Regions from separate parts of the Homo sapiens genome. Here region 2 is linked to region 1. Evidence: fine-mapped expression QTL. A gene starts in region 1. The other region holds a variant in brackets. All regions are shown on one strand. Distances are between the middles of the regions.

Region 1 (5,215 bases):
GGGCTGACGGCTCTCAGCACAGAGGCATGTTTGCTACATAGTCAGAGGGAACCTCCATGTGACAGCAATTCACCCATAGTGGGTGGAGGTCTGGGGCAATGGCTGCATGCATGTGTGTGACGTTGAGTGTGGGGCGTGTGCACACGTGCACTTCTGTCCACCTGGGCCTGTTCTACGTTCCGCATGGGCAGGCACGGAGGTCAGGCAGGCCTATCTTGAGGGGGTGTGTTTTTTGAGGGGTGTGACTGTGAGGCCCTATGTGTGAAAGGGATTTCTGTGATGGAGAATCTGTATTTGCCTCTTACCAAGGAGTAGGGGTTGGCATGGCCTCTACCTGTCCACCTATCTACTCGTGAATTCTCCAAGCCACCCTTCCACGCATTTACCACCTATGCACTCACCTGGACATCCATCCTCCCACCTAAGCACTGTATAACCACCCACTGGCCACCACCCACAAACCCACCCACCCAATTCATGTTCTCATGGTTCTTCATCACCCTTTAATCAGATTTCACCCACACATCCATCCACCCACCCAAACACCTACCAACTCCCACCATTCATCCATCCACTCATCCACCCATCCATCCACTTATCCATCCCTTCATCCATCCACCCAACCACCCATCCATCCATCTGCCCAAGCATCCATCCATCCACCCATCTGCCCACCCAATCACACACCCATCCACCCATCCACCCACCCACCCATCCACTCATCCATCCACTTATCCATCCCTCCATCCACCCACCCAACCACCAATCCATCCATCCACCCACCCACCCACCAGTGCATCCATCCACCCACCCACCAGTCCATCCATGGATCCTTCCATCCATCCATCCATCCACTTATCCATCCCTCCATCCATTTGCCCAATCACCCACCCATTCATCCATCCACCCATCCATCCATACATCTACCCATTCACCCATCTACCAAACCACCAATCCACCTATTCGCCCCCCATCCATCCACCCACCCATCCATTCATCTACCCCTCCACCGGTGCCCATTCACTCACTACCTACCCTTTTTTCTTCTACCTCTGACTGGAGGATTCAATCACACCCAAAGCAGGGGGTAATAAGACACCCAACAGAGGAGTTCACAGGCTGCTTGGGAGAAGACAATCCGTGGGCTTGGGGGAGGGAGAAACGCCTGCTAAATTTAGGAAGCTGCTTGCTGGAAGAGGTGATGGTAAATAAGAAGGGCCTGATGGCCGGGTGGGATGTTGAGCACCTGCCTTGGAGGAAGCTAGGCAGGGCACAGGCCGGCAAGTGGGAAGTGCGTGGGTGAACGAGTGCATGTGTGTGTCAGGGTACCTGGGTAGCTCCGCAGCCTGGCTAGGACTCAGCACGGCTTCTTTCTCCCACATACAAGGGCTCAGGGGCCTGGGGCCATAAGGGGATCCTCCGTCCTGGGCCTCTCCCACCTCCTTCCTCCCCTACCTCCTGCAGCTCCAGTGCCCCGAGCTCCCGGCCACAGTGCCCACTGCCGGCTCCGGTTACCCACTCCCAGCTGGGCCACGAGCAGCTCCAGCCGCTCCACTCTGACACCTGATCGGCTCTGAGCAGGCGGCCGCCCCAGGGGGCCGGGGATGAGCCGAGGGAGGAGACAGGCTGGCAGCGGACTGCCTGTTGGCCAACTGGCTCTGGCGGGAAGACACCCACGATCTTCCCTATCATCACTGGACTGATTTCAGTTTCTGGAAGGAGCCATGCTCTTCCTCTTTCTCAGCCTTTGCACTTGCTGTTCCCCCCACCAGGAACATTCTTTCTGTACTTCATGTCACCCCAACCGGCTCTACCTGACTCATGCACTCTTTATTTATTTATTTATTTATTTTTGAGACGGAGTTTCATGCTTGTTGCCCAGGCTGGAGTGCAATGGCGCGATCTCCGGCTCACCGCAATCTCCGCCTCCTGGGTTCAAGCAATTCTCCTGCCTCAGCCTCCCGAGCAGCTGCGATTACAGGCCACCACACCCAGCTAATTTTGTATTTTTAGTAGAGACGGGGTTTCTCCATGTTGGTCAGGGTGGTCTCGAACTCCCAATCTCAGGTGATCCACCTGCCTTGGCCTCCCAAAGTGCTGGGATTACAGGTGTGAGCCACTGCGCCCGGCTCACTCACTTTTTAGATCTTTGCTGCAACATCCCCTCCTCCAGGAAGCCCTCCCGGATGCCCCCAGCCTGGGTCAGGTGCCTCCTGTGAGCCCCCTCACTGCCCTGTGCCCTCTGCATCACCCATTGCACCCCAACCACACCATGTCACCATTACCTGGTCACATGTTTGTGTCCACCCGCAGCCACCAGGGCATAGATGGTACCACCTTTGCTCTCCAGTGTGCCCAGTACAAAGTAGGTACTCAACACATGATTCTTAAATGAGTCCTCCAGGCCACCAGCCCCATTGACCTTGAGCAGGACCTGTCCTGCAGAATGCAGAACCTCCAGTTGGATGATACTCAGATAACTTGGCCGGACGCAGTGGCTCACGCCTGTAATCCCAGCACTTTGGGAGGCCGAGGCGGTCAGATCACCTGAGGTCAGGAGTTCGGGACCAGCCTGACCAACATGGAGAAACCCCGTCTCTACTAAAAAATACAAAAATTTGCTGGGTGTGGTGGCGGGCGCCTGTAATCCCAGCTACTAGGGAGGCTGAGGCAGGAGAATCGCTTGAACCCAAGAGGCGGAGGTTGCAGTGAACCGAGATTGCGCCACTGCACTCCAGCCTGGGCAACAGAGCGAGGCTCCGTCACACACACACACACACACACACACACACACACAAATGAGATATTCAGGTAACTCTGCGTGGCATTCAAAACCCTTAGGCTGGGGTCCCTGCTGTCCGGCTCTGTCCTTACGGAATTTACTAATCCGTAAAAGGGGTTGTGGGGACATGGATAGCCTGTGTCCCGCATTTTAGAGGTGACTGGAGAACTCTCACGTAGGCGGCCGCCCCAATTTCCCGCCCGGGTCATCGGGGAGCCCCTTCCCAAGCCCCGCAAACACCTGCATGCAAAGAGGCAGGCTTCCTTCTGACAGCAGATAACATGTCGCCTGCGGCGTCAGCAAGAGGCGCATGCGCCTTGCCGTGGGAGGCCGGGTGCGCAGGACTGGAACGCGGTTCCTCCTTCTTCCCCGCCCCGCCCCGCTTCCGGCGGAAGCGGCCTCAACAAGGGAAACTTTATTGTTCCCGTGGGGCAGTCGAGGATGTCGGTGAATTACGCGGCGGGGCTGTCGCCGTACGCGGACAAGGGCAAGTGCGGCCTCCCGGAGGTGAGCGCGTCTGAGGGTCCCGAGCATCGCGCCCCAGGGCCGCGGGCTGGGAGCGGCCGGATGGCAGGGGGGCATTGTGGGAATATCAGGGGGCACTGAGGCTAGACAATGGGAGGGACTTCCCAGTGAGGAAGGGGCGGGAAGTGACGCCCCTGCGCGCCGGGGGACGCCAACACGCCCAACTCTGTGGTCACCCTGTCGGGGCTGATCGGGGAGAGAGGGGATGTAGTTCCAGGAAGAGGGGACGACAGGCGCAAAGGGAGGTGGGAATAAACACACCTGGAGAACGATTAGGCCTGGGAGGTTTCCAGAGCCGGGCCAGGACGGGGCTCAAATGCCAGGCTGGGGAGTTGGCACTTTATCCTGAGGGTGATGGGGAAGGGTTTTGCCCTGGCGAGGGGACTGGACAGAATGTGCCAGAAAGATCCCTCCAGCCACTCAGAGGGGAAGTGGAGGGATCGGCTGCCCCCTCCACGCACTGTGGGACTTTGGGGAAGTCACTTCCCTTTTGGGTCTCCATCTCCAAACTTTCTGCAAACGAGGTGAAGATGGCCCCATTCCATAAGGCTGGCCCATGCATTCTGACTCATGCATTTAATGAGCGCTGATGGTGTGCGCCCGTCCAGAAGCCCCACTCTTCACTGCTGCTGTTAGTCACTTTATTATTATTATTATTATATTTTTGAGATGGAGTTTCTCTGTCGCCCAGGCTGGAGTGCAGTGGCGCGATCTCGGCTCACTGCAACCTCCGCCTCCTAGGTTCAAGCGATTCTCCTGCCTCAGCCTCCTGAGTAGAGTAGATGAGACTACAGGCACCTGCCACCACGCCTGGCTAATTTTTGTATTTTTAGTAGAGGCGGGGTTTCACCATGTTGGCCAGTCTGCTCTTGAACTCTTGATCTCAAGTGATCCACCCACCTTGGCTTCCCAAAGTGCTGGGATTATAGGCGTGAGCCACCATACCCGGCCTGTTAGTCACTTTATTCCACCAACATTTATAGAGCACTTACTGTAGCTCAGGCACTTTCTAGGTACTAAGGCCACAGCCAGGAGCAACACAGATTAAAAACCCCTCCTTCTAGTAAGGGAGACTGACTAGGGGTTGCATGGAAACCAGTTGGCCAAGGGAGGCATCACTGTCACTGAAGTGACATCTAAGCCACAAGTTACAGGAGGTGAGGGAGGGAGCCATGTGGGTATCTGGGGGAAGAGCATTAAAGGGTGTGGCCCTGAGGCGGGACTGTGCCTGGTGTGATAGAGGAACAAGGAGGAGACCTGTGTGGCTGGAGCAGAGTGAGGCAGGGAGAGGGAGGAGAAGAGGGCAGGGAGGGGGCAAGGGAGGTAGTGCAGGGCCTGGTGGGCCGTGGGAAGGGCTAGGGCTTTGACAAGGCAGGTGGGAGGCATGGAAGGTTGTAGGAAGAGGAGGGGCATGAGGACAAGCTGCCTTTTCCAATCCATTTTCCTCCCTCAGGCAAGACAGGGACAGCTCAGTCTGTGGCTCGTGCGTGGCCTTGCCACTTGGGGGAACTGTTTTGACCCCTCCGTCTGCTCTCTCCCCCCACAGATCTTCGACCCCCCGGAGGAGCTGGAGCGGAAGGTGTGGGAACTGGCGAGGCTGGTCTGGCAGTCTTCCAGTGTGGTGTTCCACACGGGTGCCGGCATCAGCACTGCCTCTGGCATCCCCGACTTCAGGTCTGTGATTGTGCAGGGGAAGTCGAGGCAAGGCCTACCAGGCTGCCAGAGGCTTCCCTGCGAGCCACACACATCTGGGAATGAGAACACATCCATCTGCTTTCCTCCTGGATGTGTCCTGGGTACTCCCTTTAAGATGTGTCCCTTGGCTGGGCATGGTGGATCACAAGGTCAAGAATTCCAGACCAGCCTGGCCAATATGGTGAATCCCTGTCTCTACTAAAAATACAAAAA
Region 2 (5,476 bases), 26 kb after region 1:
TAGTGACTCGGTCTCCCCTCTGCTATAAGATGGGAACCCAGCCAGTCATGGTGGCTCACGCCTGTATTCCCAGCACTTTGGGAGGCCAAGGCAGGCGGATCATCTGAGGTTAGGAGTTCAAGACCAGCCTGGCCAACATGGTGAAATCCCATCTCTATTAAAAATACAAAAATTAGCCGGGCCTGGTGGCGTGCACCTGTAATCCCAGCTGCTCGGGAGGCTGAGGCAGGAGAATCACTTGAACCCGGGTGGTGGACGTTACAGTGAGCTGAGAATGTGGCACTGCCCTCCAGCCTGGGTGACACAGCGAGACTCCATCTCAAAAAAAAAAAAAAGATGGGGACCCAAATTCAACAGGGCTTGGTTCTGTCCGTCCCACAAGGCTGAGGAAGACACAGGACATTGTCAGGAGACACCGGCTGATTCAAAAGGGAGTGGCTGTTATCACACAGAATTACAGGCTAGATTTGCAGCCAGCCAGGCGTTATCTCACCCAAGGGGCAGGGACGAGGTCTGATTCACCTCTGGTTGTCCCCTCCTGGTAGCCGGCATGCAGTAGGCATGCTGTCCCAGCACACAAACTTTGGGTCAGGTAACCCTTGGTTCTAATCCTGGTTGGGCAGGGCTGTGTGACCTTGAGTAAGTGACTTCACCTCTCTGAGCCTCAGATTTTTTTTTTTTTTTTTTTTTGAGACGGAGTCTCGCTCTGTCGCCAGGCTGGAGAGCAGTGTGGCAATCTTGGCTCACCGCAACCTCCACCTCCCAGGTTCAAGAGATTCTCCTGCCTTAGCCTCCCGAGTAGCTGAGACTACAGGCGCCTGCCACCACACCCAGCTAATTTTTGTATTTTTAGTAGAGACAGAGGTTTCACCATGTTGGCCAGGATGGTCTCGATCTCTTGACCTCGTGATCCGCTCGCTTCGGCCTCCCAAAGTGCTGGGATTACAGGCGTGAACCACTGTGCCCAGCATTTTTTGTTTTTGGCTTTTTTTCGAGACAGAGTCTGGCTCTGTCAGCCAGGATGGAGTGCAGTGGCATGATCTCAGCTCACTGCAACCTCCGCCTCCCGGGTTCAGGTGATTCTCCTGCCTCAGGCTCCTGAGTAGCTGGGACTACAGGTGGCCCCCACCATGCCCGGCTAATTTTGTATTTTTAGTAGAGATGGGGTTTCACCATGTTGGCCAGGCTGGTCTTGAAGTCCTAACCTCAAGTGATCCGCCTGCCTCAGCCTCCCAAAGTGCTGGGATTACAGGCATGAGTCACCGCTCCGGGCCTGAGCCTCAGTTTTGTCAACTCTCCAATGGGACCAAGAAGAGCTCATAGCAAGGGTCAAGGGACAAAGGCCACCCAGAGGCCAAGTATCTCCAGCCAGGGCTCTGCCTGGCCCGCCGGGAATGCTTAATCAATAGAGTAAATCATTACTGATCTGCTGTTCCCCACGTCTAGGAGGAGCACCCTGGAACCTAGGACCTGGTAACCTCATGCACTTTTATTGAGCATCTACAGGCTGGGTGGAGCGGCTCACACCTGTAATCTCAGCACTTTGGGAGGCTGAGGTGGGCAGATCACCTGAGCTCAGGAGTTCAAGACCAGCCTGGCCAACATGGTGAAACCTCGTCTCTACTAAAAAATAAATATTAGCTGGGCATGGTGGCATATGCTTGTGATCCCAGCTACTCAGGAGGCTGAGGCAGGTGAATTGCTTGAACCTGGAAGGCAGAGGTTGCAGTGAGCCGAGATCGCGCCACTTTACTCCAGCCTGGGTGACAGAGTGAAACTCTGTCTCAAAAAATAAAAATAAATAAAAAATAAAAAAAAATCTACTAGGAACCAGGCACGGGGTACAGACACGTAGAAGGCAAGACCCTGACTTTGGGCTGTGCTTGTCAGCACCATGCCTGGTGCCTGAGCCACCTGCCGGGGTTGCATCCTAGCTCTGTGGTTTTAGCTCATTGCTCAACCTGACAGGACTGTTTCACGATCTGGAAAATGGGCTCCCAATAGCATCCACGTGAAAGCATGGAAACACCTAGCCAAGGGAGACACGTGTCCTGAGTTTGAGTCTGGGCCCAGCTCCAAATTGCTGTGTGACCTTGGACAAGATGCCAGCCCTCT[C/G]TGGGCCTCCATTTCCTCACTTACAGGAAGGGCCCTGGAACAAGGTGAGGGCGGTGGGCAGAGACACAGCAGGACTCACCCAGGTCTATGGTCACAGAGGCTTCAGGTACTTGGATCACTGGCCCTGGGGTTGTGGTGGAGCAAGAGTTGCCAGGATGATAGGAGAGGCAGGGCCCCTTGCCAGGCTGGGCAGGATGGCAGCCGGCGGGGGAGGTGGCTGGTCCGCTGCGTGGAGGGGTGTCCTGGGGGTCGGAGGGGAGGTCTTCGGAGATGCCACTATCACTGCCTTCGGGGGACCAGAGTGGGGAGCTGGGCAGTGAGTCTCCAGAGCCCAGGATGGAGCTGAGGAAGTCGTCAGAGTCGGGGTTTGGCAGGACCTGCTGGGGTGGACAGGGAGGGGTAGTAGGAATTAGGAAGTGCTCACTCTTTTTAGATTAGTGTGTGGCCCCAGGGAAACCAGTGACCCTCTTTGGGCCTTAGGTGTCCTTCCCTTCTCCAAGATGAGTTACTGCTTCTTCCTCCCGGGGCTGCTGAGGCTCAAACGCAGTAACATAGCATAAAAATCCCAGCCAGTGCCAGGTGCAGTGGCTCCTGCCTGTAATCCCAGCACTTTGGGAGGCCGAGGAGGGCGAATCACTTGAGGTCAGGAGTTCGAGATCCGCCTGGCCAACATGATGAAACCCCATTTCTTCTAAAAATACAAAAAGTAGCTGGGCGTGGTGGCGGGCATCTGTAGTCCCAGCTACTCGGGAGTCTGAGGAAGGAGATTCTGAACCCGTAAGACGGAGGCTGCAGTGAGCCGAGATCACGCCACCGCACTCCACCCTAGGCAACAGAGCAAGACTCCATCTCAAAAAAAAAAAAAAAAGAAAAAAAGAAAAACAAAAGAGCCAGGCACGGTGGCTCAGGCCTGTAATCCCAGCACTTTGGGAGGCCAAGGCGGGCAGATCACCTGAGGTCGGGAGTTTGAGACCAGCCTGACCAACAGGGAGAAACCCCGTCTCTACTAAAAATTCAAAATTAGCCAGGCATGGTGGCACATGCCTGTAATCTCAGCTACTCGGGAAGCTGAGGCAGGAGAATCACTTGAACCTGGGAGGTGGGGGTTGCGGTATGCCAAGATCACACCATTGCACTCCAGCCTGGGCAAAACAACAGCGAAACTCTGTCTAAGAAAGAGAGAGAGAGAGGAAGGAAGGGAGGAAGGGAGGAAGGGAGGGAGGGGGAGAGAGAGAGAGACAGAGAGAGAGGGGGGGAGAGAGAGAGAGAGAGAGAGAGAGAGAGAGAGAGAGAAACGAGAGAGAGAGAGAAAGAAAGAGAAAAAAGGGCCGGGTGTGGTGGCTCACGCCTATAATCCCAGCACTTTGGGAGGCCAAGGCAGGTGGATCACCCGAGGTCAGAAGTTCAAGACCAGCCTGGCCAACATGGTGAAACCCCATCTCTACTAAAAACACAAGAAATTAGCCGAGCGTGGTGGCGGCTGCCTGTAATCCCAGCTACTCGGGAAGTTGAGGTAGGAGAATCACTTGAACCTGGGATGCGGAGGTTGCAGTGAGCCAAGATCGCGCCATTGCGCTCCAGCCTGGGTGACAAGAGTGAAACTCTATCTCAAAAAAAAAAAAAGAGAGTAAAAGAAAGAGGGAGAAAGGAAGGAAAAAAGGAAGGAAGGAAGGAAGGAAAGAGAAAAAGAGAGAGAAAAGAAAGAAAAAAAAGAAAGTGGGCCGGGCGCGGTGGCACACGCCTGTAATCTCAGCACTTTGGGAGGCTGAGGTGGGTGGATCACAAGGTCAGGAGTTCAAGACCAGCCTGGCCAGGATAGTGAAACCCATCTCTACTAAAAATACAAAAATTAGCCAGGTGCAGTGGCGGGCGCCTGTAATCCCAGCTACTTGGGAGGCTGAGGCAAGAGAATCGCTTGAACCCGGGAGGCAGAGGTTGCAGTGAGCCGAGATGGCACCACTGCACTCCAGCCTGGGCAACAGAGCGAGACTCCTTCAAAAAAAAAAAAAAGAAGAAGAAAGAGAGAAAGGAAGGAGAGGAAGGAGAAGAGAACCGAACCTAGCCAGGGAGATGCCCCAAGTTTGAGTTTGAACCTAACTCCAAATTGCTGTGTGACTTTGGATGAGTTTCCACCCTGCTCTGGGCCTCCATTCCCCACCTGTAAGAAGGAGCTGATGCTACCCGCTAAATGATGTGCTTGGCTAAAATCAAGCACCGTGACCCATTAGTGCATCGTAGAGCTGAGCAGAGCTCTGGCTGGGCTCTGGCGGGTCTAGCACCTTCGTGGGGCCTCAGTTGGCCCGCCTGGAGCTCTGTGGTCCCGGGGCAACTGCAGTGGACTCCTCACCTGGTCCTTGACGTGACCCCAGCCCTCGCCCAGCTCCACGTGTCTCAGGATGCCGTCCTGCCGGTCAAACAGGAGATCCAGGAGCTCAAAGCTGTCGATGGGGTCCATGGAGCAGGCAGCAGAAGCCATCTGGGGCGCGAGGAACAGATGTGAGGGTCACATACAGCCCCTGTCCTCCCCACCTCCCATGTGCACATAACCCTGGCTCTTTCCGGCTAGAGTTCAGTTGCCGCTCTGCCTCCGGGTTGGGCCAGCTGCTGCCCCTCGCTGAGACTCCCTTTCCAAATCTGGACTTTGAGGCTGATAGAGAGAATTCCACAGTGTGAGAGCCAATTTCTCTTAAAGTGCTGGAGAGGCTGGATGTGGTGGCTCATGCCTGTAATCTCAGCACTTTGGGAGGCCGGGGCAGGAGGATCACTTGAGCCCAGGAGTTCAAGACCAGCCTGCGCAACATAGAGACCCCTATCCCTACTGCAAATAATTTAAAAAAATTAGCTGGCTGCGGTGGCACACACTTGTCGTCCCAGCTACTGGGGAGGCTGAGGTAGGAGGATCCCTTGAACCCAGGAGGTTGAGGCTGCAGTGAGCTATGGCCACCCCACTGCACTCCACCCTGGGTCACAGAGCAAGACCTTGTTTCAAAAAACAAAAAAGTATGGCAGGCACGGTGGCTCACATCTGTAATCCCAGCACTCTGGGAAGCCGAGGCGGGCAGCTCACCTGAAGTCAGGAGTTTGAGACCAGCCTAGCCAACATGGTGAAACCCTGTCTCTAGGAAAAGTACAAAAATTAGCCGGGCGTGGTGGTGCACACCTGTAATCCCAACTACTTGGGAGGCTGAGGCAGGAAGATCTCTTGAACCCAGGAGGTGGAAGTTGCAGTGAGCTGAGATCGTGCCATTGCACTCTAGCCTGGGTGACAGAGGGAGACTCCATCTCAAAAAATAAAAATAAAAATAAAATAAAATAAAATAAAAAGTGCTGGAGAGAGGCCCTAGCTAGAGATGCCGCTTGC

What was found. PIP is the estimated chance that this variant, and not a neighbour inherited with it, causes the effect.
Region 2: its variant is fine-mapped to the expression of SIRT6 in pancreas (GTEx, PIP 0.95).

Annotation. Positions count from the first base shown.
Region 1 is chr19:4,180,548-4,185,762 of GRCh38, reverse strand. It overlaps SIRT6 (sirtuin 6), which reads left to right and starts at 3,200. Exons shown (of 8, transcript NM_016539.4): 1 at 3,200-3,289; 2 at 4,854-4,981. The coding sequence starts at 3,224. ANKRD24 (ankyrin repeat domain 24) reads right to left here and starts at 3,074. Exons shown (of 22, transcript NM_001393985.1): 1 at 3,023-3,074. RefSeq lists enhancers at 3,017-3,066, 3,137-3,226.
Region 2 is chr19:4,154,014-4,159,489 of GRCh38, reverse strand. CREB3L3 (cAMP responsive element binding protein 3 like 3) reads right to left here. Exons shown (of 10, transcript NM_032607.3): 2 at 4,463-4,591; 3 at 2,195-2,495. Among named protein-coding and RNA genes, the nearest start is that of CREB3L3, 3.1 kb to the right of the region's middle. The variant C/G (reference allele first, on the strand shown) is at 2,116.